Homo sapiens: one gene and its partners. The protein of the gene in region 3 purifies or fractionates together with the protein of the main gene of each other region. This does not show direct contact. Each region holds a gene or a part of one and is shown on either strand. Other genes may lie near its edges. The genes, in order: ARHGEF12, OSBPL10, VAPB and LSG1.

Region 1 (7,550 bases), on a different chromosome or scaffold from region 3:
GTGAGGTCAAAGGAAAGGGAATATTTAGAGATAATTTCATTAATCTAGTCAGAAATAAGAGTCAGAAAAGGACTACCACTGCTTCCCCCACCTCCTTCCATTGTACTTTCTTTTTTCTTTCTTTTGATTTGGTAGAATTATAGGCTCAGTTTTAAAGCATGTCAAGATTAAGATAATGAATGACAAAACACTAAAAAGTGAGTAACTAGCAGGAAGTTAGAGTTTTAGGAGTGAAACTTTAGAGAGAGGTTAGGAAGAGATAGAGATGTGAGCATCAGAGCCATGAGACTTCCTGGCATCTCTCAGGAAGTGATTGTAGAGCAGAAGGACAGAGGATGAGAGACCTAAGTGGAACCTGTTGCCTAAAGAAACATGACAGACATTAAGCTAGTGATGAGAGCAGAGAATTGGTTATTTAAAACCTACAATATTTTTTATACCTTCTCCTGAATTAACAGTCTTAATAATTTCTGATGGTTGGAATAACATTGTCCCAATAACTCTATCATTGTCTGGGTGACCTCATAGCATACACTTGGCCCATTCAAAATTAAATTGGTTCTTATTTTCAGTAAATGTATGTATCTCATAAAATTAGAGGAAATAATATGCATATAGTGTCTGGATCTGGAAAAAGCAGAACTTTTTTTTAGCTTTTTCTGTCTAGCTTAACACAGCCTTTCAACATTCTTAAGAAGTACCTTTAGGGTATTATTCTAGTTATATAGAAGAAAAAATAGAGGCATGATATTGGTTATTGAGGAGTTCTAAATAGTAGTATCTCCCTATTCAGAATGCTTAGATCTTTTCAAGTTTAGTTTAACGTTAAATCTTCTCTAAAAGATGGTGCTTTATTTCATCTTCAAAACAAAATGGAAAATGATTGTATGAAGTAAGATGATTGTATGAAATTAATAATTAACATTTTAATATGTCATTAAAAGATACTTTTTAAAGATAGATCATTGGTAAGTCAGCTAATTTAATTCTTGCAGCCTGAGGTTATAGTTGTGAATATGTTTTTTTTCCCCCTCCTTCCTAAATCGTTTAGTGGGTTTGTTGAAGCAGTTGCTGGTGCAACAGCTAGGTTTGACTGAGAAGAGCGTTCAGGAAGACTGGCAACATTTCCCAAGATACAGAACAGCCTCTCAGGGGCCGCAGACAGACAGTGTCATCCAGAACTCTGAAAATATTAAGGCCTATCATTCTGGTGAAGGACATATGCCCTTTAGAACTGGAACTGGTGACATTGCAACTTGTTACAGTCCACGGACTTCAACTGAATCTTTTGCTCCACGGGATTCAGTGGGACTGGCACCCCAGGATAGCCAGGCAAGTAACATTTTAGTAATGGACCACATGATTATGACCCCAGAGATGCCTACCATGGAGCCAGAAGGGGGTCTTGATGACAGTGGAGAGCACTTTTTTGATGCCCGTGAAGCACATAGTGATGAGAATCCATCAGAAGGTGATGGAGCAGTTAACAAGGAAGAGAAGGATGTTAATTTACGCATCTCAGGCAAGTATCTTTCACACTTAAACTTTGATTTTGATTTTGATCATTGTTAACTGTCCTGTATTTTGAAATGGATGTTGTATTGGTATCCAGGTGTGTGTGTGTGTGTGTGTTCACACATGTGCAATATTTATTCCTTCATTTGATAAATACTGAATCTACTCTGTACCAGACCTCATCATAGGTGCTGGGAGATATAGCAGTGAATAAAACACAGAAAAATCCCATCTTCTCATGAAGCTAGGGGAAAGAAGGATGGTAAATAAGTAAACAAATAAATAGACTTCAGGAAGTATTAGGAAGAAACATAAGTCAGACTGAGGGGACGGAGAGTAATGAAGGCAAACAGGGTGATCAGGGATTAGGACCTCCGATGAGGTAGCATTTGAGCAGAGACCTCAATGAAATGAGGGAATAAAGCCGGGTGGGTACCTGGGAGCTTACTATTCCAGCAGAGAGCAGAGTGGGGCAGAGGCTTTGTGTCAAAGAGCAAGCTTTTTGTGGTGATCGAACACTGGATGAGGGAGACAATGGCAGGAGATGGGGCAAGAGAGGCGTTTGGCAGGGGAAGTGGTAGCAAGATCATTTAGGCACTGTAGTTTCCAGCTTTAAACTTTTGAAATGAAATTTTTTGGAAATTACCATGAAAGTTTGCAGAGTTTAGCTTTCATCTGAAGTGAGGAAATTCTGATGTACCTGAAACTAAACTCAGGAATTAATGGCTTTTCCCTCTCTTAATAACTTTTCAAGTTGAAGTTGTCAGCACACTATGCTATTTCTGTTTTCTAATGGCAGCACTGGTCTTATCAAACTATTCTGTCTCTATCCATAGGAAACTATTTGATCCTTGATGGCTATGACCCAGTGCAGGAGAGTTCCACAGATGAGGAGGTTGCTTCCTCACTTACCCTGCAGCCCATGACAGGCATCCCTGCTGTGGAATCCACCCACCAGCAGCAACATTCTCCTCAGAATACTCACTCCGATGGGGCAATTTCACCATTCACCCCCGAATTTCTGGTCCAGCAGCGCTGGGGAGCTATGGAGTATTCCTGTTTTGAGATCCAGAGTCCCTCCTCTTGTGCAGATTCACAGAGCCAGATCATGGAGTACATTCATAAGATAGAGGCTGACCTTGAACACTTAAAGGTACCTCATACTTCCACATCCATAGGACTTGGTTGTAAGAAACATTTAGCAGAGGGGAAGAATAGGGTGATGAAAATGCTGATGTCAATAAACTTGTTCAGGTTCTAGATTTCTTTGACTATTATCCATGAATAGGCCTGGGTAAAAAGTTGAGATTGGCATTGTTTATCTTTTTCTTTCTTTCTTTTTTTTTTTTTTTTTGAGACGGAGTCTCGCTCTGTCAACCAGGCTAGAGTGCAGTGGCGTGATCTCAGCTCACTGCAAGCTCTGCCTTCCAGGTTCACACCATTCTCCTGCCTCAGCCTCCCAAGCAGCTGGGACTACAGGCACCCGCCCCCACGCCCAGCTAATTTTTTGTATTTTTAATAGAGACGGGGTTTCACCATGTTAGCCAGGATGGTCTCGATCTCCTGACCTCGTGATCCGCCTGCCTCGGCCTCCCAAAGTACTGGGATTACAGGCGTGAGCCACCGCGCCCAGTCGGCATTGTTTATCTTTTGACTATCACAAGAGCAGAAAAAGTTGCAGCTCTGTGAACTGTGTGTTTGTATGGGTGTCTAAGTTTAAGAACCTGAAATGCTTCGGGTAGTTGGCTGGCCTCTGTCAGACATGAACAAGAAGATGAGATAGGTAGGGTTTATGTAGTTATGAATCTAGGCTGAGAAATGCTATGACTTTCTGTAGCCTATTATCTGTGACTCATTAGGTGACATTGGCAGCTTCCCAAATCCTATGACAGATAGAAATTGGCTTCAGTGGCTCCTGTAATCTAAAAACATGGTCATGCATGGGATTTTTGTAGATTGGTAATTGAAGATGTCACTATTGCAAAACTGACTTGTGTGGCAATTTCCAAGAGAAAGACCTATCTTAAAGTTTTCCATCAGAGGCAGGGCACGGTGGCTCACGCCTGTAATTCCAGCACTTTGGGAGGCAAGGCAGGCGGATCACGAGGTCAGGAGATCGAGACCATCCTTGCTAACACGGTGAAACCCCGTCTCTACTAAAAATAAAAAAAATCAGCCAGGTGTGGTGGTGGGCGCCTGTAGTCCCAGCTACTCAGGAGGCTGAGGCAGGAGAATGGCATGAACCTGGGAGGCGGAGCTTGCAGGGAGCTGAGATCACGCCACTGCACTCCAACCTGGGTGACAGAGCGAGACTCTGTCTCAAAAAAAAAAAAAAAAGTTTGCCATCAGAAAACACAGCTTCCAGAGCCCAAACATTTTCCTCATGACATCATTTACACCAGAGACTTGAGGGGTAGATTTAAGTATCCTTAGCCTTTGAGTTAAAGACTGGTCTCCCTTAGTTTCTCTTTTACCTTCATATAATTGATTTTTCCCTCTTCATGTTACTTATTTTATGTAGTATCATTCTGTAGCTGATGAGATATCGACAAGCCCATTGAGGACAGGTCGGTTCTTATATACAGTCATGTGTTGCTTAGCAATGGGGATATATTCTGAGAAATTCATCATTAGGCATTTTTATCTTTGTGTGAACTTCACAGAGTGTACTTACACAAACCTAGATAGAATATATCTTTATTTACATAGATTTTTTCATATGGAAAGCCAAATCTCTCAACACTATTACTGAATATTAGTCATTTCCCCTACCTGATCAGCAATGCCATTATTAAGTGCCACACACCAGGTTTCTACATGTGCTCCATAATAATCTTTTTTTTTTTTTTTTTTTTTTGAGACAGTCTTGCTCTGTCACCCAGGCTGGAGTGCAGTGGCGCTATTTCGGCTCACTGCAACCTCTGCCTCCCAGGTTCAAGCGATTCTCCTGCCTTGGCCTCCCAAGGAGCTGGGACTACAGGCACCACCACCATGCCCAGATAAATTTTTTTTTTTTTTTAAATGGAGTCTCGGTCTGTCACCCAGGCTGGAGTGCAATGGTGCAATCTCGGCTCACCGCAACCTCCGCCTCCCGGGTTCAAGCGATTCTCCTGCCTCAGCTTCCTGAGTAGCTGGGATTACAGGTGCCCGCCACCACACCCAGCTAATTTTTTTCTATCTTTTAATTTATTTATGTATTTATATTTTTTGAGACAGAGTCTTGCTCTGTCGCCCAGGCTGGAGTGCAGTGGCATGATCTCTCCTCACTGCAAGCTCCACCTCCCAGGTTCACGCCATTCTCCTGCCTCAGCCTCCCCAGTAGCTGGGACTACAGGCGCCTGCCACCATGCCCGGCTAATTTTTTTTATTTTTAGTAGAGACGGGGTTTCACCATGTTAGCCTGGATGGTCTCGATCTCCTGACCTCGTGATCCGCCTGCCTCGGCCTCCCAAAGTGTTGGGATTACAGGCGTGAGCCACCGCGCCCAGTCCCAGCTAATTTTTATAATTTTAGTAGAGACAGGATTTCACCATGTTGGCCAGGCTGGTCTGGAACTCCTGACCTCAGGTGATCCACCTGCCTCGGCCTCCCAAAGTGCTGGGATTACAGGCGTGAGCCACCATGCCCCACCCATAATAATCTTAAGGGACCATCATCATGTATGCAGGCCGCCATGTCTTTATGTGCTGCATGACTATAGCTCATGCACATGATGACGGGACCATGTCCAGGGTGACTCCTGGGGGTGGGAGAATTGCATCTATGGTTACCACCTCTACTTTCTTTTTACATGGGAAAATACTAAGTTATTCCTTCAGTGGAGAAATTGGTAAAAGGAATGAAATTTACTTTTTTCTTCCCACTAATGAAATTTTTAATGATGAAGTTAATATTTTTGAAATTTGGGGGCTTGTACCTGTAATGTAAAAAGGGCTTCTTTTCTGTTTTCTGAAGTTTTTGTTTTGTTTTGTTTCATTACGTTTGAATAAAAAACCTATGGGTTTTATTTCACAGAAGGTGGAGGAAAGTTACACCATTCTTTGCCAAAGGCTGGCTGGATCAGCCCTCACAGACAAGCACTCAGGTATGTAAAAGTTATGAGTTCCAGACTCTAGACTAATCATCCTACACTGAATGAAATGACTTATCATACTTTGAAGTGAAAACCTTCTGAGATTCCATTTCTCTTCTGTCTTTAAAGAACTGCCTGTTTCTAAACATCAGATATCAAGCGGAAGCTCATGCCTGCTGACTCTACTCTTCTCTAAGAGGAACTGCAGTTGTCAGTTCCCATACCATCCCCTCTTCTCTCTCTTTTCACCTTTTCAAAGCAGAAGGCAGAGCAGTGGGAAGCCTGGTAAATCACAGATTCGGTGTGAGGCTTACTGGTACTGCTGTGACTCCCTAGTGTGGAGGATTTGGCCTTATTGGATGTTGGTGCACTTGCCTCTGCTGACAGTGTGGCTGGTGTCTCCCCTGACTGCAGATGGATTTGTGTTCCCTGCAGCAGTTTATACTCATCTGCTTACATACTGATTCAGAAACAAAGATTGAACCACGCCCACAGATGTCATGGGTATTCTTTGCAATGTTAGTATATTCTTTTTCTTAATATCATTTCCATGTATCTTTATTCTTCTCAGATAAAAGTTAGAGCCGCATGTCCTGGAGGTGACTGCAGGTTGTTGGATTTGGAGTATCGGCCGTGTCTCACCACATCCTGGCTCCAGTGTGGATGCAGAGAGAGTGTGACAGAGGATCTGCCTGTGAACCACCTGGGATTAGTCAAGTCCCAAGGTGCCCAGAGTGGGACTAGTTCTTCACAGTGTGGCAGCTGCACTAATCTGTTTGTGAGGGAATATCCATTCCCTCACTCTACTCTCCTCACTATCGGAAATTCATTTTGATTCAGAATAAAAACCAAATGTATAGAGCTTTGGGTGTAGGATATGAAATTGTACTTAGATTTAAGAAAAAGAGAAAATCAGATGTATTTATTTGACTTCATTCCGTATTTGAAAGCACATTTTAATTTTTATTTGCCTTGTTTTGTTTTAATTGAGTAGTGAGAGTTTTAGACCTTTGTCTTTAGTACACCCAAGGATCAACTGCTCCTGAAGCAAAGAGGTCAGGATGGAGTATGCAGAAGTTGGGTAGAGAGGTTAAGAAGAGGAGGAAGTGAGACGGGGAAGGGAGGAGCACCTTGCTTCACTATACAGTATTCCAAGCTCTCTGCTGTCCAGTAGGCTGCTTCTCTGAGGGTCACCTCAAAGGTATGCTATGCCGTGTGGCTCTTATGTGCCCAGGTGGTGTGGTCAGAGAGTGGATGGGCTTCCTCCCGCCCTGAGGCAAGCACCTCTTCTCTGTAGCTGGGATCAACCACAATTAATAGGAATCCTCAACATACTAAATAGCAGGCACTTGAAAATGGGTGTGTTTTCTTCCATTGTCGTCTTTTCTATTGAGGGTTGGGATTTGGGTGGGAGAGGAAAGCAAATTTTATTTTCTTGACTATAAATTTGTTATTCTTGGTATCATTTCATTTTTATAATTATACATTAGACATTGGCACTTGTGTAAAACTGTCCCTGCAGATTGAGCAGGAAGTAAAAACAAATGGAAATGCTTCGGATAGTGGCAGGGGTGGGGGTTGCTAAGGAAAGGGTGGGATGGGAGTGGGTAAAGAGTTTGGGAAGGTTATCTAACTGAATCACTACTGAGTTGAATCATGGCTATCATTAGCCACAGGTACTGCTGATTATAAGGCCAGTAAAATTTTAGTACCTGGAGGTTTGACTCTAATTTTTGCACTGATGGTGCCAAAGGGCCCTGAGTCAAAAGGATAGCCAAGGGTGGAGTGGAAAAAGATATGGTGAAGGCAGAACTGCTCACACCAGCTCCAGAAGCACGTCCTCTGACTTCACTGCCGCAGCTCTTTCCACACGGGGCCGTGATTGACCCTAAAAATTGCAGACCAGCACATACACTGGACACTGCAGGCAAGGTGTTGGTAACTGCCTGCTCTAGGATGAATA
Region 2 (7,472 bases), on a different chromosome or scaffold from region 3:
TACTCTAAGTATTTCACATTCTCATCCAGTGAGTGTGAGCCAAATGTCCTGAACTTACTCTCCTGAGTTGAGCACGTTCCCATCATACAGTGTTCTTCTCTGTGACCTCTCTTTATGTCGTTTATTTTGTGTTCTGGCCCAAACTGCCTTCCTAAGGGCATGAGGATGAGGCTACAAATAAAGGCAGAATATGATGCCAAGTGTTAAAATATAAGTTTTACAGCAACTTGAGAACATGCAAGAGGACACCAGGGTACAAACTGTTAGTGGGTGATTGGTATTAAGTCCTGGGAGCTGGTGAAGAGCACTACAATTGCACAGCAGCCTGAGAGGATGAACCAAGAACTTGGTTGCTATAGATTTGTCATTAACTGTGGGCACTTTGAAAAGAACTGCCAAAGGAAGATGCTATGAGGCCCAGAAAGAAAGGCAGCAGGAATCAGTTGGCTAACTATTTGTACTAAGGCATTTCCCTGGACCAGGGAAGGGTGGTAGCTCCAGCTCCTAGAACAGTTCCTGCCACATAGTAGGTGCTCAATAAAACAGTCTGTGAATAGATAATTGAACAAATGAATACATTTTCAAAGTTTCTATTTTTATCCTCTTCTCTCTTCCTTTTCACTAATCCATCTGTCCCTTCATAAGACCCCTAGAGAAGGGAGAATTTTGCAAGCACAGAGTCATCGTAATCTTCTCCAAACCACTAATGGACCCTCAGCCATCGTTCAAAGAACAAAATGTGGGAAATAGAAACCCTGACACTGAGATGTTAACAATTACAGACGATGCTTATGGAGTCAGTGGTAGACTTGGAAAACGGTGAGTCTACTGTGGTAAGAACAAACATAGGCAGACAGCTATAAATTGCAGTAAACAAACTCAATAAAGATGAGACATCACTTAAGCATGCTCAGGAGTGTACTTAATACCACATTTCACCTAGGTAGCCTGCTATCACGTAGGTATTATTATTGGCATTAAATGTGCTTCTTCTCAACCTTGCCTCCAATCTAAACACCACAATGGGTTTAAAATAATGCAAAAGAATGTTACTCCAATGCCTCCTAAATCCACTCCAAATAACAAATCCTTTAATACAGACTGCAAGGTAAAATATTGTTCCCCAGCAAGTAAATAATAAAATAACTGTAATCCAGGGTAAAAGCTTTGCTGGCCTCATAATCTACTTGAAGAAAAAGCATTAAGTGATTGCTCAACACACCAACAAAATGCTGTTACTGACAAGGCACCTTGAGTTGCCATTAACGAGACATAATTACCAAGAACTGAAATCAGATTTAGTCATCTCATATCTCCCTCTACCTACGCATTCTACCTATTCTTTTTCAGCTTTCACGAATTGAAAGGGGAAGGGAGAGGCAACAGCAGACACTAGGACTATTTTGAGAAATAAAAGGATTCAAAAGTTAAGTGCAACTTCCACTAACATAGTAACACATCTCCCAGGAAGCCCAGGTGACTCAGAAAGTCCTATATGTAGAATATCAATATAGAAACAACTCAGTTTCCATACTTCAAAAGACCTCTTCCTCCAAGTTGAGTTTCGTGCAGATAACTGGCTGATATGTTTCAGATGGAAGCAAATCTGAACATTTCCAAACAATCTACAGGAAGAGATAACCAAGTAATATAGTCCATGCAGCAGAGATAAGCAACTTTCCAGGGTATAATTCAAATCTCACAAACATCCTTAAGAGCCCCAAGTCTATTAAGATCTGGAGACTGTTAAATAGGCAGGACAAAATATCCCACCAACCACCTCTCCAAAAAGCATTGTTCTCCTCGCACTGACACTTGTATTTCCCTCTGGCTTGTTTTTGGAAAACAAATTGAAAAAAAAAACAAAAACAAAAAGTAAACAGTAGTGCCACATCTGTTCTTGTCTTCCTCACGATGGCAGATCACACACACTACCACCATTCCAAGTGCCTCCTGAGCCCCTTTCCTCGACAGCCCCATCCTTCCACGTGTCCATAACTAGGCTTCTCAACTGCAAGGGGGAAGTGAGCAGGAAACTTCAAATGGGACCTGAAGAGGAAATAATGATAATAATGTAAATTGCTACTAATATTAAAAGGGGGAGGGTATTTTTTCTTTCTTTTTATTATTTTATTTTATTTTATTTTATTTATTTATTTTTTTTGAGTCGGAGTCTCGCACTGTCGCCCCGGCTAGATTGCAATGGCGCGATCTCGGCTCACTGCAACCTCTGCCTCCGGGGTTCAAGCGATTCTCCTGCCTCAGCCTCCGGAGTAGCTGGAATTACAGGCGCGCCGCCACGCCCGGCTAATTTTTTTTGTTTTTAGTAGAGACGGGTTTTCACCATGTTGGCGAGGCTGGTCTCGAACTCCTGACTTCGTGATCTGCCCGCCTCGGCCTCCCAAAGTACTGGGATTACAGAGGTGAGCCACCGCGCCCGGCCTCTTTCTGTTTTTAAACAAAACTTCCATTACAAACATCGGAGGCTGCAAGGCACAAACTGGGGCAGGAGTATGCACAGTCGCCCAGGATGACAAGTGGCAGGTTTTTTGTTGATGGTGGTGGTGTTCTGAAACACCAAACTTTAAAATGAACTGTTACTTAGAGAATTACTGTAATCGGAGCGGACGTGCTAACGCTTTTTCACCCCGGCACAAAGCACGCCCCTTCTGCCTCCCTTTCCCAGTCATTCTTCAGGCGTGCGGGAAACCGCGGACAAGCAGAGCACGGGGACCAGCACGATCCTCCTGCCACCACTCCAGTCTCTGCAGGTGCCAGCATAGAAGAAAACCAGGGCTCTCGCCTCCCTCCCCGCCACTGCGGTGCGGTCCCGGGGTGGAGCCACGGCGCGCCCCATCCTGAGAACCCCACCTGGAGGGGAGCAGGGACGCAGGAAGGGCACCGTTGGGAGGCATCACTGGGTTCGCTGAAGGCACAATCGCGCGCGCACACACATACACAGACACACATACACACACGCACGCACACACACACACACACACACAGCGGCGCGCGGTGGCGCGGGCGGCTGGCGCGTTACCTGTTCTGCCAGCCCTGGAGGAGGTTGGTGTATTTGCTGAGCACGCCCTCGAGCGCCGGCTCCCTCCTGCGGCCGCCTCCCCCGGACGGGCTAGCGGCCACAGAGCCCGGGCTGCTGCGGCTTCCCCCGCCGCCGAGCCCGGCCGCCGCCGACCGGCTGGAGACCCCCCGGCCCGCCAGAGAGCAGGAGGGCGAGGAGCCCGCCGAGGTAGCACGGCTGCTGCTGCGGCTGCTGCTGTTGCTACCCCCGCCGCCGTCTGTGCCCTGGACTGCCCTCTCCATGGTCCGTGGGCGCCCGGGACGCGGGTGCCCGCCGCGGTGGCGGCCCCGGCACGGCGGCTGCTGCTGCTGCTACAGCTCCGGACGCCCGGGCCGCGCGTGCCTGCTCCAAATCCCCGGGAAATGCCTGACTCATACAGGAGGAAGAGGAGGAGGAGGCGAAGGAGAGCTGGGAAGGAAGCCAACGGGGCTGGATGCAGCTGCGGCCGCCCCTCCTCCCGCCGCGGCCAGGGCCCGGCCCCTCCCTCCGCACTAGTTTCCCGGGCAAGTTCGGAGCGGGTGGCCGGCTAGGCGAGCCCTCTTCGGGTTCCTCCTTCTCTTCCTTCGTGTCCCTGCGGCCTCTCAGGCCCTCGGGACACTCTAGGAGGCCGATCTGCAGGGTGGGCACGCCCTAAATCCACGCCAAGTCACCCACGCATTCCTTCTGCCACCCTCTCTTGGATCCGAAGGGGCGAAAGGGAATCTCTGCACGTCACTCCCCACCCCTTATCCACCTCGGGACCTGGAGGGAGGGGCAGCCCCACCCACCCGGTCCACCCGGATATGGACCCGCCCGGCCTGACAGGCTCACACGCACACTCCCTCTCTCGGTCTTCCGCACACGATGCTGCGCCAGACGCTCCTACACAGTAACCTGGAAATTATCACCGGCGGAGCAAAGTCACAGCTCAGGGAGGCCCTCCGCGTTGTCTGGCGGAGGAGGGGAGTGGCAGGTGATCCTCACAGGTAAGCTCGCCGGGCATTTTCATGCAGCAGGATTATGATAAATGCTTAACAGACACACGGCTGGGCTGGGGTGAGGCGCGCGAACTCTCAGGTTTGTGCGAGTGCTTCCTTAAATTGAGTGTCCTAGGTCACTCACTGGCCTAACCCTAATCCCCTGCCCTGAATGGCACGCATAAACCTGGCAAGTCAAAACCTATCCATTGCTACCACACTGCACGTGCACCTAGGAGCAGAGGCTCTGAAACCGGGAAAACTGCTCCAGAGGCAAGGGAAATTAACAGATATTTACAAACATTGAAGGATTCTCTGTGTTGGCTGTAACTTCTGCGCCCCTCTTCCTACCTAAAGATACTCTTTCTATCCCACTAATATTTTTTGTGAATATAGATATCCATTGTAATCTGAAGTATCAAAAATTACCTAGAAAAAAGCTTTGAGGAACTCAGACTCTCTCTCTCACACACACACAGACAAAACAAAAGGTGATAGATGATAGGTGATCTCCGTCCAAAGGATCTACAAACCCATCAAGCAGATAAATACTTCAAGAGTTAAAAAAAATTACTAAATGGAAAAGTCAGCTCTCAAAGGGACAGTTCCCCGAGCCCAACCCCTTTCTAGCTTCACATCCTTCCAGGAAGATTTCATGGGTGGTTTAGCTCTAGAGATGCACGGAGAAGCTTCTGGAGTTGAAGAGAAGTGGTTGTGCCCCTGAGTAAATTACAATTCCAGGTGCCTACATAGTGTTAAAAAAAAAAAAATCTGAAAAGAGCTTGCCTGGACCAAATTTGAAGCCATTCAGAGCTGAATTCTAACCTATGACCTTGATCAAATTACCTCTTTTAGCCTTAGTTTTCTCACTGCAAAATGGGACAAATGATACCGGCTGTAATAAACTATGCAAGAATGTTCATTTGTTCAAAATATTTACTGCCGCTTCCTATGGAAAGAGTATCCTTCCTCCACATGGACCTTAGGCTTGGCCATGGAATTGCTTTGAGCAATGGAATGTGAACAGAAGTAATGAATGCCCCTTCCAAACATAAGCTTTAAGAGCAGTCATATGGTTCCACCATCTTTCTCTTTTCCTTATCCCAGGAGAGCAGCATGTCCCGGATAAGGACTCTCCTTAAGCTTGTGTCCTGGAGTGAGAAGGTGTGGAATACAGCAGATCCTAAGCCAGTTAGTGTTGGCCATGTAACATGCACAAAATGTTTGTTTGAAGCCATTGAGATTTTAGCATTATTTTTTACCACAGCATAGCTTTGCCTAAGCTAACTTACTGATCATATATGAGTGTTCATTGAGTCCTGCATTGACATACAGACTGAAGGTGGGAAGGTAGGTGCATACTGGACTATAAATGTCAGCATTATGTACCAAAACAACATGCCTTTTATTGGAGACTGCCACCTTAAGCTCCTGCTAAAAGAGGAGAAGTGTCATTTTATTTCATATTACCTAACCTATGCCACCATTACTCCACCTTATGCAGCCAACCTAAGACTGAATGAGCTAGCACAACAAATTCTCACCTTGGACTAAAAAATTAGACCCTTGAGATAGACCAGTTCAAGTGGGGAAGGAACTAAGCTAAAAGGAATAGTCAAGGCCAGGATGGGGCAGGAGCAAGCCAGCCGTATGGGATCAAAAATGTCCAAGAGGTGAGTGGAGCAGATGTGCTGAAAGTAGAGGCTATATCATGAAAGAGTGATGAAGCACATGCTGTTCCTCCTGCTGGTGACACTGTTCCCTGCTCTCTTCACCCGGTTTGTGTTTCTCACCCATGGAGTTATGGATTACAAGTCACTTCTTCCAGAAAGCTTTCCTTGACCTACCGTAGTATAGCAAATAGGGAAAAGGTACCTGCAGAATTATGTTTGGAGAGGAAAAAGTCTTTATGTTTGAAAAACAATTTGGAAAATACATAATAAGTTGGCAAAAAGTATTTGAAATACATACTGTAATGCCCAACAGTTTCATCTTGCTTGTTACCCGGAAAAGCCAATGCAGGTTTTTGCAATAGAGGAAGAGTTTAACAATTGTAGGGCCAGCCAAGCTGGAGCACAGGAGTGTATTATTACTCAAATCAATCTCCCTGAAAATTCAGAGCCTAAGGGGTTTTTTTTGTTTTTGTTTTTGTTTTTGTTTTGAGACTGGAGTCTCGCTCTGTCACCCAGGCTGGAGTGTAGTGGCACGACCTCAGCTCACTGCAAGCCCTGCCTCCCGGGTTCACGTCATTCTCCTGCCTCACAGCTTCCCCAGTAGCTGGGACTACAGGCACCTGCCACCATGCCCAGCTAATTTTTTTGTATTTTTAGTAGAGATGGGATTTCACTGTGTTCACCAGGATGGTCTCGATCTCGTGACCTCGTGATCCGCCCACCTCGGCCTCCCAAAGTGCTGGGATTACAGGCGTGAGCCACCGTACCGGGCCCACCTAAGGTTTTTTTTTTTTTAAGGATAGTTTGGTGGGCAGAGGGCTAAGGATGGGGAAGCTGATAGATTGGGTGAGGGATGAAATTATAGAGAGTCGAAGTTTGTCTTCTTGCACTGAGTCAGTTCCTGAGTAAGGGCCACAGGACCTGATGAGCCAGTTTACCAGACTGGGTGGTGGCAACTGGTCCGTCAGAATGCAGGGTATGAAAAACACCTCAAACACAAATCTTAAGTTTTACAATAGTGGTGTTATCTATAGGAGTGATGGGGAGGTTAGAAATCTTGTGACCTCTGGAAAAATGGCAGATTATCATTTAACTATGCCTTTATCTTAGCAAAGTTCAGACCTCTCTTAAGCCTGTGGCCTTTCATTAGTTTTACAAAGGTAGTTTGGTGTTCAAACAAGGAGGGAATAGTTTTGGAAAGGGATATTACAATCCTTGCTTTAGGGTTAGACTATGAACTAAATTCCTCCCAAAGTTAGCTGTGGCCTGTGCCCGGGAATGAACAAGGACAGCTTACAGGTTAGAAGCAAGATGGAATCAGCTATGTCGAATTTTTTTTACTGTCATAATTTTGCAAAGGCACTTTCGGTATGATTAAAAATATTGGCTAGGCCAGGCGCGGTGGCTCAAGCCTGTAATCCCAGCACTTTGGGAGGCCAAGGTGGGCGGGTCACGTGAGGTCAGGCGTTCAAGACCAGCCTGGCCAACATGGTACAACCCTGTCTCTACTAAAAATACAAAAATTAGCTGGGCGTGGTCATACACGCCTGTAGTCCCAGCTACTCAGGAGGCTGAGGCAGGAAAATCGCTTGAACCCAGAAGGCAGAGGTTGCAGTGAGCCAAGATCACACCATTGCACTCCAGCCTGGGCAACAGAGCAAGACTCCATCTCAAAAAATGTTTTAAAAATACAAAATATTGGCTAAACACAAATGCTCAATATAAGGACCATTTCCTTAATTTACCCAGATTGCATAAATCACT
Region 3 (7,906 bases):
TCAGGTACAGAAGTGATGAAACCACTTAAGTAGTTAAGTGGTTGTCTAATCTCTGTATAGTACTATGCACTTACAAAGCCACTAACAGCCATGTCATTCCTTCTAAACACGTTCTACAAGAGGCAACGTGGACACGAGCATCATCCCCATTGACCGAATAACCACCCCAGGCTTTGAGGAGTGAAGTGGCCTAAGGTCACACATCTTTCAGTAAAACAATTGAACAAAATCTTAAATTTTCTCAAATGAGTGCCTCTTTCCATAACATATTAGACAACAGAGTTTGTACTGGGATTTGGGGGTTTTCAGAAAGTTAATGCAAGGAAGGACTGCTCAAGGAGAAGCAACACAATTTTAACTTGGACACTGGCTGCATCTATGCATAAAGGGACTGAGATCTGACTCTTGTCTACTCACCAGCCTTGTCTCCCATCTTGCCAGGCAACCACAACAAATGTTCTTTGTTGCTGTCATTCAGAACCACTAGTGGTGGCCGGGCTCACGCCTGTAATCCCAGCACTTTGAGAGGCCAAGGAGGGCGGATCACTTGAGGTCCGGAGTTTGAGACCAGCCTGGCCAACATAGTGAAACACCGTCTCTACTAAAAATACAAAATTTAGCCAGGCGTAGTGGCACATGCCTGTATGTAATCCCAGCTACTCAAGAGGCTGAGGCAGGAGAATCACTTGAACCTGGGAGGCAGAGGCTGCAGTGAGATGGCGCCTCTGCACTCCAGCCTGGGTGACAGAGTGAGAACTCTATCTCAAAAAAAAAAAAACTACTAGTGGCATCCCAAAGGAGCCCAGTCATCTCAGTGTTTGTGCCTCTGTGCATGCAATTTCCTCTGTCTGAAATGTTCCCCACCCTTTCCTTCTTTGAGCCTTCTTCTACTCGACCTTTATAACTGAGCTCAAATGACACCTCTTTCAGGAGTTGACCTCCTCAATGCTCCTGGAGCACTCTGGACTACCCTACATCATTGTCCTGTCCTGGCTGTTATTCTCATCTGCCCCCTTCCCTAAAGTACTGGGAGGAGGTTGAGGGAAAATAGGAGAGTACAGCTGATATAACTTGGCTTCTCTGGGTATCTGACACACAGATCAGGTACTCAGTAAATGTTTGTGGACTAACCGAATGAACCCACCAATTATCAGGAGAAGCCAAGCCAGGCCTCCCAGATAGAGAAAGAACTTCAGACAACTCAAGTGGAAACTAAGGCTCACTATTTTCACTTTAGCTACCTGGACTTCTTTCCCAATCTGGCATCCCCAGAAGGCCATGAGAACATCATGAAAGCTCAAGTACTATCCTGGAATTACAATCCACGGTAGGTTTGGTGGGGTTTTTCGGTTTTTTCATTTTAATTGGAAAGCCTTTGGTTCTCTGTAAATTCAGAGTTATTTCACATTGTTAACTTGGAAGGCAAAGTGACAGCCACCGTTCTGGAGTATTTCCCAGCGATCAGACAGCAAAACGGTTAAGAGCGTGAACTCTGAAGTCTGGGTTCAAATGTACCATTTGCCAACTGGGTAACTTTGGGTAAGTTACCCTACACTACTTCCCAATAGGACATATAAACTGGAGAGCCTCTGGCCATTCATTCATTCATAAATACCAACTGAGCATCTACTGTGAGTCCGGTGCTAGCGATATAGTGGAGACCCGGCCTTCCAATCTAAAGTACGCTTCCATGGAGTCAGACTGTTCCATTTCCTACACAGCACTTAGCACTATCTGCAATGATCTTGTGTGTTGGTTTGTCTGTCCTCGTCGGAAGGTAAGCTCTGTGAGAGCAGAGGCCTTATCTGTCTTGTGCATCCATCACCTCCCCAGAGCCTCCCACATCACTGGATACACGCAAAAAGAAAGAATGAGCATGTCAGACAAGAACTTTTACCTCGTGGCCCTGGTGAAGGTAGGAAAAAAAAAAAAAAAACAAAAGTAACAACATAGAAAACATAAAGGCACAAATTACAGAGGTAATAGTATCTGGGAGAAACCAGGGTCATGGCTTCCCATCGCCGCAGGTGTTGCTCCAGACAGCTCTGCGGAGAAAAAGGATCCCAGCACCGTGGCAGCCTCCTTGCACCGCAACCAGGAGACAGCATGAGGGACGCAGTGAAAGGAAAATGGGCCCAATCCCATCAGAAGTCCTGAGGAGGTTCATTTGTTGGTTCAACATGTTCATCTGTTGGTTCAACAGGTATTTATTTACTAGGCGTATAATGTGTGCTGGGTACACAGCAGCGAACTGACAAGAGCCTGTCCTCATGCAGTTTCCCTTCTAGTATTGAAACAGTGATTTTGGGTATGAAAAGTGCCGTGCTGACCACGAAACAGTGACGGAATAGGGAATGACAGCAGGTGTGCACGGTGGCTGGGTGGTCACAGCAGGCCTCTCTGAGCAGCTGACACCTCAACTAAGCCCTGAGGTCAACACTGTCACGGAGCAGGGGAAGAAACTTCTAGGCAAAGGCAGCGGCGGAGGCTCACACTAGAGAGGATCACAAACTGGTAAGTTACAAAGTGACAAGTGCCTCGAAGGCAAGTCCCAGGAGGCTGGGGGTCGGGGAGGAGGCGCAGGCCCCGGCTCCCGCACCAGCCCTCTCGGGTCCCGGCCACTCCGGGCAGTTCTGGGGAGCGCGGCGAGCGCCAAGGCCCGGCCCGGCCTCGCCGCCCCCCGCGACAGCGCCGTCGGGGTGGGGACGAGGGCCGACGTCACCCGCCGCGCCGGGCTCCGTCCTTCCAGCACTGGGGCGGAGGCCGCGGGCAGGAAGGTGGCGGCCTCTGGGGCTTACCTCGGAATTTGAGCTCGTGCTGCGGCTCGAGGCTCAGGACCTGCTCCACCTTCGCCATGTTCCTTAGCGGCGGAGCACCTTTGGCGGGGAGACCCCTGAGAGGTCACCGGGGCGGGAAGCGTTAATGCTGCGCCCGCTTTAAGTTTTACAAAAAGGCGGGGACCGGTCGGGGCACGGGCGGGGGTCCTCTACCGGGTGGGCGCGCTGGGGGGGGGTCGGTCTACGCGGTGCAGGCGCAGGGGCGGAGGGCGAGGGCGAGGCCGCGGTGCCCGGCGAGCTGACGGCACGCACGCACGCACGCACGCACGCAGAGTCGTACACACGCACGCACGCAGCAGGCTGGCCCGCTCTGGCGGCGGGAAGCTGCGCCCTGCGCCGCCGGCTCCAGGGGCGGGGACTAAAGCTGCGCGCGTAGAGCCCCTTCCGGGACAGTGCGCAGGCGCGGCACAAGCCACGGGGGCGGGACTGCGGGGCAGTAAGGGGCGGGGCTTCGGGCCGCTCAGGAGGCGGGGTCTGTAGTCCAGCTACGACAGCCACCGCGGAAACTATTAAGGGCCCGCTGGGGGCCAGCTTCGTGTTAAGTGCTTTATTCAATAATAACAATTAGAATAAACTTCCACTTTTCTCTTGCTTATGTAGTGCCAGGCACTGTTAGAGACTTTGAATAATAGTGAAAGTACTTAGTATAAGTATAATGTTTATGGGTGAGTGATATGGGCTAGGCACTGTGACGTCTTGTAAATAATAATTATAAATATAATAAACTACCAATTATTGCTTATTTATTTTGTATCACTCTACTGAATGCTTCCAATAACAACAGCAACTACAATAAATACAAGCTACTCTACGTTAAATGTTTACTATGCAACTGGCACTGTGCTGAATTCTTTACTAGTAAATTCTATTTGTTTATGCAACAAATATTTAGAAATACAATGATCAGAAAAGCGAACCTGATTCCAATCCTTTTACTATAGCCTAGTGAAGAGACATCTTTTGAATAAATAACCACACACGTAAGTTAAATAATTAAAAATTGCTGGAGAATCCAGATCTGCTTGACCTCAAAAGTGGATACTCTACATCATGATTACCGTTTAAATTGTATTTCATTATATTATGTTTACTATGGAAGTTAAATAGGTGTTCTTAATAGTCTCCTATACATACCCATATAGGTGAGACAAATGTGGCAAATTGCTAGCAATGGCTGACTCTACATCGCAGGTATATGGTTTTCTTGTACTGTTTCTCCCACTTTGCTGTATACTTGAAATTTTTCATGATAAAAAGGTTTTTTAAAAGAATAGTCTTTGTATTTTAACTGGAGCATTTAGTCCATTTACATTTATTATATTTACTGATATATCTGGAATTATTTCTACCATTGTATTTTGTTATTTCTATTTGTCCTGCCTGGTTTTTTTCCCCTTTCCTTTCTTCTTTAGGGTTTATTTTTATTCTCATTCTGATTTTCTTCACCTGTATACTCTATTTCTAAGTTTTAGTGGTTACTTCAAACTTTTGGGCATGCATACTTACCTTGTGAAAGTCCAATATCTTTAAATATTTGTAAAAATGTCTTTACCCTGTTTCCTTAAAATATAAAGACTTTGGAGTACTTTAATCACCCATCCTCTAAATTATACACCTTAATGTAGTGTATGTTAAGTTTAACCTTTGCCACTGTAACCCCAAGAGACATTACTAAATTGTTTTATTCAGTCAACATTAGTTTAGATTCAGCCACACAATTACCATTTTTATCCACCTTTTCTTCTTGCATCTCAGCTTTCACCAACAGGATCACTCTCCTTTTGCCTGAGGTAAATCCTTTAAATTTTATTTTTTTGTAGCTTCGTTGGTGCAAATCCTCTCAGTTTCTGCTCATCTGCAAATGGATTCATTTTTGCCTTTTGTTGTTTTTATTTTATTTATTTATTTATTTGGAGATGAGGTCTTGCTCTGTTGCCCATGCTGGAGTGCAGTGGCATGATCGTGGCTCACTGCAACCTGTATCTCCCAGGCTGAAACAATCCTCCCACCTCAGACTCCGGTGTAGCTGGGACTAAAAGCATGCACCACCACGCCCAGCTAATTTTTTTATTTTCTGTAAAATCTCACTATGTTGCCCAGGCTGGTTTCAAACTCCTGGGCTCAAGTGATCCTCCTGCTTCAGCCGCCAAAGTGCTAGGATTACAGGCATGAGCCACTGCGCCTGGCCTTGCCCTTGTTCTTGACAGATATTTTGGCTTGCTTGCTTGAATGACAGCTGTCCTCTCTCAGCACACTTGATTGCCATCCACTGTTTGCCTGTTCCCCCTCATTGCTCCTCAGGAGTCCAGTGACAATCTTAACATCGTTCCTTCATAGGTTGTTGGTCTTTTCTCCCTCTTCTCATGTTCTACAGTTTTACCATGCTGTATCTTTTTTTTTTTTTTTTTTTGAGACGGAGTCTCGCTCTGTCCCCCAGTCTGGAGTGCAGTGACGCCATCTCAGCTCACTGCAACCTCCGCCTCCCATGTTCAAGCGATTCTCCTGCCTCAGCCTCCTGAGTCGCTGGGATTACAGGCACGCACCACCATGCCCAGCTAATTTTTGTGTTTTCAGTAGAGACAGAGTTTTGCCATGTTGGCCAGATGGTCTCAAACTCCTGACCTCAGGTAATCCACCCACCTCGACCTCCCAAAAAGTTGGGATTACAGGCGTGAGCCACCATGCCCAGCTCATGCTGTTATCTTTTTATTTATCCTGCCTTGAGTTCTTTGGGCTTTCTGAATTTGATGATTGGTGTCTTTCATTATTCTTGAAAACTCTCAGACAATACTTTTTTTTTTTCAATTTAATTTTACTTTTTTATTGTGGTAAGATACACATCACATAAAATTTACTCTCTATCATTTTTAAGTATCCAGTGGTATTAACAAGATTCCTATTGTGGTGCGACCTCACCATCATCCATCTCTAGAGCTCCCTTCATCTTGCAAAACTAGAACTCTGTACCCCTTAAGCAATCATTCCCCATGCTCCCTCTCCTAAGCCCCTGGCAACCATCATTCCACATCCTGCCTCTGTGAATTTGACTAGTCTAGGTACTTTTTGTAAGCAGAATCATACAATACTTGTCGTTTTGTGACTGGCTTATTTTGCCCAGCATAAAGTCCCCAAAGTTCATCCGTGTTGTATCATACGTGACAATATCTCTGTTAAATGTTATCTTGGATGGACACAGTGGTTCATGCCTGTAGTCTCAGCAATTTAGGAGGTCAAGGCGGGCAGACTGCTTGAATCCAGGAGTTCAAGACCAGCTTGGGCAACATGGTAAAACCCCATCTCCACAAAAAATACAAAAAAAAAAAAAAAAAAATTAGCCACGCATGGTGGTGCATGCCTGTAATCCCAGTTACTCAGGAGGCTGAGGTGGGAGGACTTGAGCCCAGGAGGTGGAGGCTGCAGTGAACCATTATACCATTGCACTCCAGCCTGGGGTAACAGAGTGAGATCCTGTCTCAAAAAAAGAAGAAATAAAAATAAATGTTATCTCAACCTCGTTCTCTCACTCTTTACATCTTGTAGTGTGATTAGTAGTTATTCAACTAATATTTTTCAAACTGTAGGTTGTTTTCCAACAGTGGCTTATAAAATCAATGTAGTAGATTGTTACCAGTGTTGAGAAAGAACGAGAATATAATATATTGGAGTGTATTGTATTATTTCATGAATCTTTTGTTTCAGTTGTATTTATTAATATACACATATCTATGGAGTGAGTCACAACTAAAATACATTTATTACTGTGGATTGTGAAAGAAAAAGAGAAAAGTCTTGTGCCCTTCTCCATGTCTATTAACCTCTCTATCACATCTTAATCTGTCCTCTTTATGTTCCACGTTCTGGATAGTTCTTCAGATCTTTCTTCTAGTCACTAATTATCTCTTAGGCTATTGATAAACCTGTTTCAGGAGTTTTTCATTTTGTTTATTTTTTTTTAAGCCTATAAGTTCTATTTTGTTCTTTTACATATCCAAGTAGTTATAGGTTGTGTTTTTTCTTTTTTTTTAATTATTATTTGAGACAAGGTCTCCCTCTGTTGCCCAGGCTGGAGTTTAGTGGTGTAATGTTGGCTCACTGCAGCCTCTACCTCATGGGCTCAAGCCATCCTCCCACCTCAGCCTCCCGAGTAGCTGAAACTACAGGTAGGCACCACCACACCCGGCTAATGTTTGAAAGTTTTGTAGAGATGGGATTTCACCACATTACCCAGGCTGGTCTCGAGCTCCTGAGTTTATGCAATCCGCTCGTCTCAGCCTCCCAAAGTGCTGAGATTAATGGCATGAGCCACTGTGCCTGGCCACATTTATAGGTTTTTTAACACTGGTTCCCAGCTCCTCTGCCCTCCCCCAGGGAATGGTGCCATAACAAAGCTTTAGTGTTGGTCTCTTCTGCCGGGTCACTTTGGTAAGGGGAAGCCCATGTTCCTAAGCCCATACAGAGCCTCCACACCTGCCACCATGGCCACTGCATAAATAAGCTCATTGAGCACGCAATGGCACAGCTGTGGGAAAGACTGACTGTTGTCTGCAGAATGTGCCCTCTTGTCCACTCAATTAATAGAGTTGCTGCTGCAGTAGATGTCTTTGAGTGGGCATTCACATGAGACACCAGTGTCTTTTTTTTTTTAATTTAGAGGCGGAGTCTTGCTCTGTTGCCCAGGCTGGAGTGCAGTGGCACGAACTCGGCTCACTGCAACCTCCACCTCCTGGGTTCAAGCAATTCTCCTGCCTCAGCCTCCCAAGTAGCTGGGATTACAGACGCCCACCACCACGCCCGGCTATTTTTTGTATTTTTAGTAGAGACGGGGTTTTACCATGTTGGCCAGGATGGTCTCGAACTCCTGACCTCATGATTCACCCGCCTTGGCCTCCCAAAGTGCTGGGATTACAGGCATGAGCCACAGCGCTTGGCCGAGACACCAGTGTCTTCACACCCATCCTGAGAGGTATCTAGTACCTCCTCCCAGACCTCCTCACCACACATCCACATCTGCTCTCTCCGTCCCTGATCATCCATTACCCAGGGGCCCGTGCACCTCTGTGCTCTTGGTC
Region 4 (8,083 bases), on a different chromosome or scaffold from region 3:
GTCTTCTCTCCTTTCCCTATGACAGTCCTCCACATCAATGGAAATGGTTCCCACATACCCCTGGAGCCTCCCTCCTTAGGCTAGTCTCATTTCCATCACCTTTTCCTCATACGACATAGTTGTGCGTTCCAGCACCATCCAGGTTTACATGCATATATATATTAGGATATTTACTATGGTTTACATGCATATATGTATTAGGATATTTACTATGGGGAATTAAGGAGATGGATCACTTTCAGAGACAAAACATAAAATCCTGGTGGTCAGAAGCCCTCTTAATGGAGTAAGGTCTACCTGGTGGTGTAGTTCATGGCTCCCTGACTTGAGCTCTTTAACCCTGGCTGAGTCTCTCTATTAGGCTGATCACCACTAAAGTGTAAGCTCTTCAGGGCAGGGAGTTCGTCCAGTGCTGAATCCTCAGAGTCCTGTGATGAATGAACCAATGAATGAATGAATGAATGAATGAATGAATGAATGAGTGAATGAATGAATGGATGAGTGAGTGAATGAATGAATGAGTGAATGAATGAATGGGAGAAACCTAGGACTTTCCATGTACAGATTTTAGAGTTGGTGATTATTAATTCTACTTCTAGCCTCCTTTATTTTACTTTATTTGCTTAACTTAACCCTATTGAGACTCAACTTCTACAGCTAAAAGTGCAGTAAAATAACAATACCCTTTTTCACTTGACTGTCAAGAGGGAAAAAGTAATTGCAAAGGCATCTCTGAATAAAAGACACTAGATATTCCATACATAACACGAGTTGAGAAAAAGTTCGTGGGTTCAAATACATAGGATCTTGTGGCCTGTGTCACCAAAGCAAGAGGTCTTTTACACATTTCCTTGCACAGGCAAGAAATCAATGTTTGATTGCAGGGACTCAAATTAATCATTATAATAGCCACCAATAAATGTCTGCTGACAGTAGGGTGACTATGGTTGACAATATTGTGTTGTATATTTCAAAATAACTAGAAGAGAGGATTTTGAATGTTCTTACCAGAAAGAAATGATAACTGAGGTGATGGATATGCTGAATACTCGGATTTGATTATTACACAATGTATACATGTATCAAAACCACCTCATACATACATACAATTATTATATGTCAATTTAAAAGATTTTTTAAAATCTGCTGAATTATGAAACTCGTGAGAATCCACCCATTTTCAATAGGGATAAACTGAGAATGGCAGTTAATCATAGGGAGTTTCCCTACTGATTCAATTACGCTCTACAGAGGCTGCCAGTGTCTATTTTCACAACTCTCAGTCTTATGCAAACTGTTTTAATGTCCTTGTAGAAGGAGGTGGTGTATCGTATGGGAAAGAAGGAGAGACCAGACTGCAAGCTCGCCTTGGAACAACTTTTCTGCCACCAACTCATTTTTGGCCAAAGTATGACAGGAAAAACAACAGAAACCAACCCACTCTTTCCTCTCCTTCCTCAGACAGATGTGGAGCCCAGAGGCACAACAGTGTGGACTTGGAAAGCTGAAAGCAACTCCAAAGTTTGTTGCTGGGTGTGGGTTTCAGAGCTTGTAACTACATTTGTTGAGACGCGGTAGAAATCAAGCATTATGCAACCCCATGAATAGGGAACACTCCCTGTGTCACTATTTAGAAGCTGGGTGCCAGGCTTCCAATCCCCAAATCAATGCAGCCTCCTCCAGGAGCCAGCTTTTCAGAGAATCCTGGCTTTAACGGAAGCGTTCAGCTACGTGGGGAATCGGGAGGATCTGGCCCATCTTCCAGTCACAAGCCTGGTGGGCGACAGTTTCCGCTGGCGTGAGAAAGCAGTGACAGGGGTTCGGCTAGGTATTGCTGTTCCTGAAGTGTGTGGGTGAAATGGTTTCTGCAGTTGGAGGGCAGGGACCTGGACTGATTCATCTTTGCAACCCCCTCACTTGGGCAGCAGCCAGCACCTTGCTCCACCCTCCGTCACCACCATCATCACTCCCCCACGATCTTACCTCCTTCCTTTTAATCTGGGTCCCATGATCTTGTCTCATCAACACCTTCAATTCCTTTCCTCCTTGTCCTTCTCACTGAACAGTTATCCAGCTGGGCTTTCACCGTCATTGCTTAGTTTTTGGGGAAAGAAAACGTGTTCAGCTGTGCCAGATGATACCCCCACAAATTACTAGGCAATCACCTTGCAGCATTATCTCATTTGTTACCTCTTCAGGGCAGGAATTGTTATTAGCCTCATTAACCAGATGAGAAGACTGAGACTCAGTTGTCTGTCATCGGTAGATTTTCGTAACGTCTTGGGAGAAATATTAGGATTATCTATCCTTTTCTTGTCAGCTAGGAGTAGTTGCTGCTAATTAAATCTTTATGACCTTTTGACTCCTCACCACTCCTGATTATCACTTTGGTTTATTTGGTTAAGTTTTTTTTTTTTTTTTTGGAGACGAAGTTTCGCTCTTGTTGCCCAGGCTGGAGTGCAGTGGTGCGATGTGGGTTCACTGCAACCTCTGTCTCCCGGGTTCAAACAATTCTCCTGCCTCACCCTCCCGAGTAGCTGGGATTACAGGTGCATGCCACCACACCGGGCTAATTTTTCTATTTTTAGCAGAGACGGGGTTTCATCATGTTGGCCAGGCTTGTCTCCAAACTCCTGACCTCAGGTGACCCACCCGCCTCAGCCTCTCAAAGTGCTGGGATTTCAGGCGTGAGCCACCACGCCTGGTCTTATTTGGTCAAGATTTTTTAAGCCCTTAGAAAAGTAACAGTGGAAAACCAAAGTGTTTATTTTCTCCAGAGGTGACAAAATCTGGAAAAAGAAACTAGATGAAGTCCCAAGTTCCTGGTTGAGCTCTAGGAATGAGATGGTGAGTTTCTTTATCTCACCTCCTAGTATTATTATTAAAATGTGAAATCTTACTTCATGAGTTAGTTTGACCTTTAACCACTTAGCTCTGGAGAGAATGCCGGGAGCTGTCTGCTAATTCTATTTCGTGGGTCTTCTTCATATCTTACTTCTGGAGATTATGTGTAGGATTTTAAAGATACACTGTTTCTAAATTGAGAAATGGGAGAAATGATGTTCTGATGCATTCCTTTGCTCATCTGTGAGCACTGCCTTCTCAAAGCGTTGCCAACTGCTTCACAGCTTGCCAGCAGTCCCTTGGGCATTTCCCAAAACTCACTTCAATTCAGTAAGAGGGGTAAGGTGCAGCACACAGAAACCCTGGCAGGGAATTCAGAATGGGTGGGAGTCTGGACCCAGTTTCGCCTGATGCTAACTTGCTATGACTGACCTTTAGCCAGTCCACTTCTGTGTCTTCATTTGCACCAGGAAAGAGTGGACTACGCTTGCTACTCAAAGTGTGACCCAAGGACCAGTACTATGGGTATCACCTGGAAGCTTGTTAGAGCCACAGGCCTCACCCCAGAGCTTATGAATCAGAATCTGCATGTTAACAAGATTCCCAGGGGATTTATATGCACATTAAAGTGTGAAAAGCCCTAGGTTAAACAGATTCTTGATCCTATTTATTTCTTTTTGGCTGTTGTTTTAATTGACAACTAAAAATTGTTTATTACTTACGTTGTACCGCATAATGTTTTGATATATGTGTACATTGTGGAATGGCTAAATCAAGCTATGCTAGGTAATATATGCATTACCTCGATCCTATGATTTAAAAATACATGTTTGGCCAGGCGCAGTGGCTCATACCTGTAATCCTAGCACTTTGGGAGGCCGAGGCGGGCGATCACCTGAGGTCAGGAGTTCGAGACCAGCCTGGCCAAAATAGTCAAACCCTGTCTCTACTAAAAATACAAAAATTAGCTGGGTGCGGTGGCACGTGTCTGTAATTCCCGCTACTCGGGAGGCTAAGGCAGGAGAATCACTTGAACCCGGGAAGCAGAGGTTGCAGTGAGCCGAGATCATGCCTTTGCACTCCACCTGGGGGACAGCGAGACTCTGTCTCAAAAGATAAAAATAAATAAATAATACATGTTAACAACCCTCATTCCCCACTCTCCCCAGGGGTGTACAGGCTAGTGACAAGACTTGGGTTTATTCCTGACACTGCACGCACTCAATCTACGACTTGCTCAAGCTGCTTCCTCTCTCCAAGCATCAAAACAAAGAGATGGTTCTCTGGATCAATGAGAATGTAGTTCACCAGCCACTCTAAGCTGACTTTCTATTATTCCCATTATAGGGAAATCAAACATTCAAGTGAGGAACAAAAGCCCAGGCCTCTAGGAGTGGAGCTGGCTCACTGTTTTCACTTTCATTTTAATTATTTTTAAAAAGGGTAATGAAAATATAATTAGAACTGTTTAAACATTTTTTTTTTCTTTGAAATAAAGCGTAAGTCACTTCCTGTTGGCTTTTCCTACAACCTTGCCAAGCTCTGGAAATACTATTCAGCCTCTCATTCCAAATTCACATCCAGGCGAAGACTTTTCTCCCCAGTTCGCAGCTGGGGTCGGCTAGATAAACAAAAAGTTAGTTGCTGTGCTGGACCTCGGAGAGACCACACCTCGGGACGCCAGCAGAAAACCAGCGCTGGGAAACGCCCCCGTCCCAGCGCCACCGAAACACTCTTCCTCCGAGTCTCCGCGTCCTCCTGACGGAAGCAGCGGAAGGCGGAGCTAGTGCCGCGAATAGGAACCGCCATGTTTCCGACGTGCTCTAGTTTCTCGCCGGACGCTAAAGACCGACGCACAAATTAAGAATGGACCATTCTTTTAACTCAGTCATTTATCCAAACTCGAGACATTCGCCAGGAAATCTATCGAAAATTTCCCAGAACCATTTTTTCACTTATATTCTATAATACTGGTAAAATCGAGACGTAAAAGGAGAACTTGAGAACAAGTCATTCTGCTTTCCCCTCTCAAGTTTGAGCCTGAACTACTTGGGCTCGCTTATCGTCACTTCCGGGGATCGAACTGTGAATCCCGGAAACTGCACGCGCCGAGCCGGGAAGCTTCGTCCAGCGGTCGTGTTGCCATGGGCCGGAGGAGAGCCCCGGCCGGTGGGTCGCTGGGACGGGCCCTTATGCGCCATCAGACTCAGCGGAGCCGAAGCCATCGTCACACTGACTCCTGGGTAAGACAGACCATGTCATCTTTCTTATCTTTTCTGTCTAGCCTGAGTGCTGCAAAATTCGGGGTCAAAAGTCAGATAAGTTTTGCAGGAGGGACGCCTCAGCCGGGTTTTGAAGGATGAGTTGGAGTTTCTGCCAAGCTGAGTAGCAGGCCCTCCTCCTGGCAAGGCCCAGAACACAAAGGTAGGAGAAGCTTGAAAGAAGAGTTAGTGTGGTGATGAGGCGTGGAGTGAGAATCTGAAGAGTCTTCAATGCCAGGTCTTGAGTACGTTTGGGTTTTGCCCTAGAAGCCACTGAAGTGCTTGGAACTTCCAGAGCAGGAAAAAGACAAAACGTATTTTTGTATTGATTTGTTCAAAGAATGGATCCTCCAGAAGCGGTTGGTTACTGCCAGAAATATAAAATAATTCAGATCCTTGCCTCATCCTTGCGAAGCACCCCCTAGTGGTTTAGCTCAAAGATAAATCATTGATTTTTCAGGTGTGACAAGACCTAATATTTTACTAGGTTATAGAAGGATCTTTAAAAAAATGAATGAAGTGATTTGGCTTGTGTTCATCATTCTAGTCGTTATTTTCACCATTCATTCCCCCGGGAATGAATGAGAACATGTTGAGTGCTAAGATCGTGTGCTAAATTTAGTTAAATATGTCCCTGGAGCTAAGTAAGCGTGTGCCACTGTCACACCAGCTGACTTTCATCCATATAGTCTGCAGAGTAAACAGCATGGAGTGCTTATCAGTATTCATCAGGTCAGAGTTACTCTGGACATTAGATTACTGGTAATTTTTATTAGCTTTGAAGCAACTTGTTACTAATGAAGCCTTTTAGGAAACTGTGGGAAGATTGAACATGAATGGTAAAGAATTGGATCCTAATTCCTTATTTTTGCTGATTCTATGCCCACTTAAACTTTTGGCCCTTAATATTTATTTAGGAAATTCATTCATCATTCAGTTATTCATTTTTAGAGACAGGGTCACACTCTGTCACCCAGGCTAGAGTGCCAGTGGTGTGATCATAACTCACCAATTCACTACAGTCTCAAACTTCTGGGCACAAATAATCCCCCTGCCTCAGTCTCTTGAGTAGCTGGCATTACAGGTGCACACCATCAGGCCTGGTTGTTTGGTTTTGTTTGTTTGTTTTGGAGAGACAGGGTCTTGCTGTGTTGCCCAAGCTGATCACAAACTCCTGGCCTCAAGCAATCCTCCTGCCTTAGCCTCTTGAGGAGCTGGGGTTACAGGCACAAACCACCACGCCTGGCAATTTTTTTTTATTTGTATCTATACTAAGTATATAGCTTAGGGTGATGGTTATCAAACTCTGGGTTGTGTCTGGAAGTCAATTTAGTGGTCTGCAGCTAGCTGTTTTGTTTTGTTTTTATTTTTTCCCCAGCAAGATAGAGAAATATCAGAATGTTGCATGTAATAGGGTGTGGTTTCAGTATTCTTCTATTGCCATTTTACTGTACTGAACGGTACTTGAATGCTTGTATCATTATATGTACATACACCTTTGGGTCACTATGTAAAATGTATTTCTTATTGTGGGATTATATCAAATAAAGTTTTGACTAATTTTGACTAGCACAGTCAGACAATCTGGGTTCAAGTTCTACCTGTGCCATTTAGATTTTGACTATAGGCAAGTTATTTTATCTGCTGAAGCCTTAGTTTCATCATCAGTAAAATGGAAATACAGTAAAATTCACCTCAAAAGATTTTGAAAATTAATGAAATGGTGAAAGGGAACTGCCTATTGTGAGGTAAGAACGTGTTCCTTTAAACATTAACTATAAGTAGTATTGATTCTAAAGGGACTACAACCACCCTCAAGACCATAGACTAGTTGCAAGGAATTTTAGAGCTTATTGGATGCCAAGAGCAGAAGAGAGCAGCTGTATTTATCACCCTGTGTTTTTTCATAGTTGCACACAAGTGAACTCAATGATGGCTATGATTGGGGTCGTCTTAATCTTCAGTCAGTGACTGAACAGAGCTCCCTTGATGACTTCCTTGCTACTGCAGAACTTGCAGGAACAGAGTTTGTAGCTGGTAAGTTGTTTATTGCTGAGTGCAGGTGAGACTGTCACATTTCCATCTGGGGCTGAGGTTTTTTTTGTTTTTTGTTTTGAGATGGAGTCTCGCTCTGTCACCCAGGCTGAAGTGCAGTGGCGTGATATCAGCTCACTGCAGCTCCGCCTCCTGGGTTCAAGCAATTCACCTGCCTCAGCCTCCCAAGTAGCTAGGACTACAGGCACGCACTGCCACGCCTGGCTAATTTTTGTATTTCTAGTAGAGATGGGGTTTCACCATGTTGGCCAGGATGTTCTTGATCTCCTGACCTCGTGATTCGCCTTCCTTGGCCTCCCAAAGTGCTGGGATTACAGGTGTGAGCCACCGTGCCCGCCCTGAGTCTTGAACAATGAGTAGATGTTCAAAGGACAGATGAGATAAGACCTTTTACACAGACAGGCAGAGGACTCGAGCCCAGATGTGAAGCAGCAGCCAACTTTGTTCAGAAAATGGCTAGAAGTTTGGCTTTGCTGGTGCAGGGGGCGGGATGTGATGAGCACAGGTGCTGAGGAGGTGGGCAAGGGCCAGATTCTGGAGAGAACAAAGGTTTAAGGCTTTACAGGGCTTTAAGCACGTGTACAACATGATTTCAGATTTCATTGTTTAGTGTTTTTTGGGGGGATGTGTGGGTTCCAGCTTTAATGAGCTACACAATTGGCAACTAAAAATTGTATATAGTTATAGTATATAGTGTGACGTTTGGTTATATGTATATATTGTGAAATGATTACTAAAATCAAGTAATTAACGTATCCATCACCTCACATTGTTTTTTTGTGTGTGCGGTGAGAACAAGATATATACTGTCTTAGCAAATTTCATATTATTAACTAATAAATGTGTTATTATTAACTATGGACACCAGGCTGTACATTAGACCTCCAGAACTTATTCATCCTGCCTCAGTAAAACTTTACCGT

Evidence for each region.
Region 1: the proteins of VAPB (region 3) and ARHGEF12 purify together in Homo sapiens (affinity purification with mass spectrometry; 5 studies listed by BioGRID and IntAct, with this or other methods). This does not show direct contact.
Region 2: the proteins of VAPB (region 3) and OSBPL10 purify together in Homo sapiens (affinity purification with mass spectrometry; 6 studies listed by BioGRID and IntAct, with this or other methods). This does not show direct contact.
Region 4: the proteins of VAPB (region 3) and LSG1 purify together in Homo sapiens (affinity purification with mass spectrometry; 5 studies listed by BioGRID and IntAct, with this or other methods). This does not show direct contact.

Annotation. Positions count from the first base shown.
Region 1 is NC_000011.10:120,478,909-120,486,458, forward strand, and holds part of ARHGEF12 (rho guanine nucleotide exchange factor 12), read left to right. Parts: intron 1-1,051; coding exon 1,052-1,522; intron 1,523-2,351; coding exon 2,352-2,668; intron 2,669-5,529; coding exon 5,530-5,599; intron 5,600-6,158; coding exon 6,159-6,169; 3' UTR 6,170-7,550. UniProt on the Homo sapiens protein: May play a role in the regulation of RhoA GTPase by guanine nucleotide-binding alpha-12 (GNA12) and alpha-13 (GNA13). Acts as guanine nucleotide exchange factor (GEF) for RhoA GTPase and may act as GTPase-activating protein (GAP) for GNA12 and GNA13.
Region 2 is NC_000003.12:31,977,859-31,985,330, forward strand, and holds the start of OSBPL10 (oxysterol-binding protein-related protein 10), read right to left. Parts: upstream 3,405-7,472; 5' UTR 3,322-3,404; coding exon 3,041-3,321; intron 1-3,040. UniProt on the Homo sapiens protein: Probable lipid transporter involved in lipid countertransport between the endoplasmic reticulum and the plasma membrane.
Region 3 is NC_000020.11:58,384,410-58,392,315, reverse strand, and holds the start of VAPB (vesicle-associated membrane protein-associated protein B/C), read right to left. Parts: upstream 3,088-7,906; 5' UTR 2,857-3,087; coding exon 2,799-2,856; intron 1-2,798. UniProt on the Homo sapiens protein: Endoplasmic reticulum (ER)-anchored protein that mediates the formation of contact sites between the ER and endosomes via interaction with FFAT motif-containing proteins such as STARD3 or WDR44.
Region 4 is NC_000003.12:194,669,068-194,677,150, reverse strand, and holds the start of LSG1 (large subunit GTPase 1 homolog), read left to right. Parts: upstream 1-4,959; 5' UTR 4,960-4,988; coding exon 4,989-5,087; intron 5,088-7,015; coding exon 7,016-7,142; intron 7,143-8,083. Other genes in the region: uncharacterized protein LOC124909474, read left to right, coding at 1,315-1,508. UniProt on the Homo sapiens protein: Functions as a GTPase. May act by mediating the release of NMD3 from the 60S ribosomal subunit after export into the cytoplasm during the 60S ribosomal subunit maturation.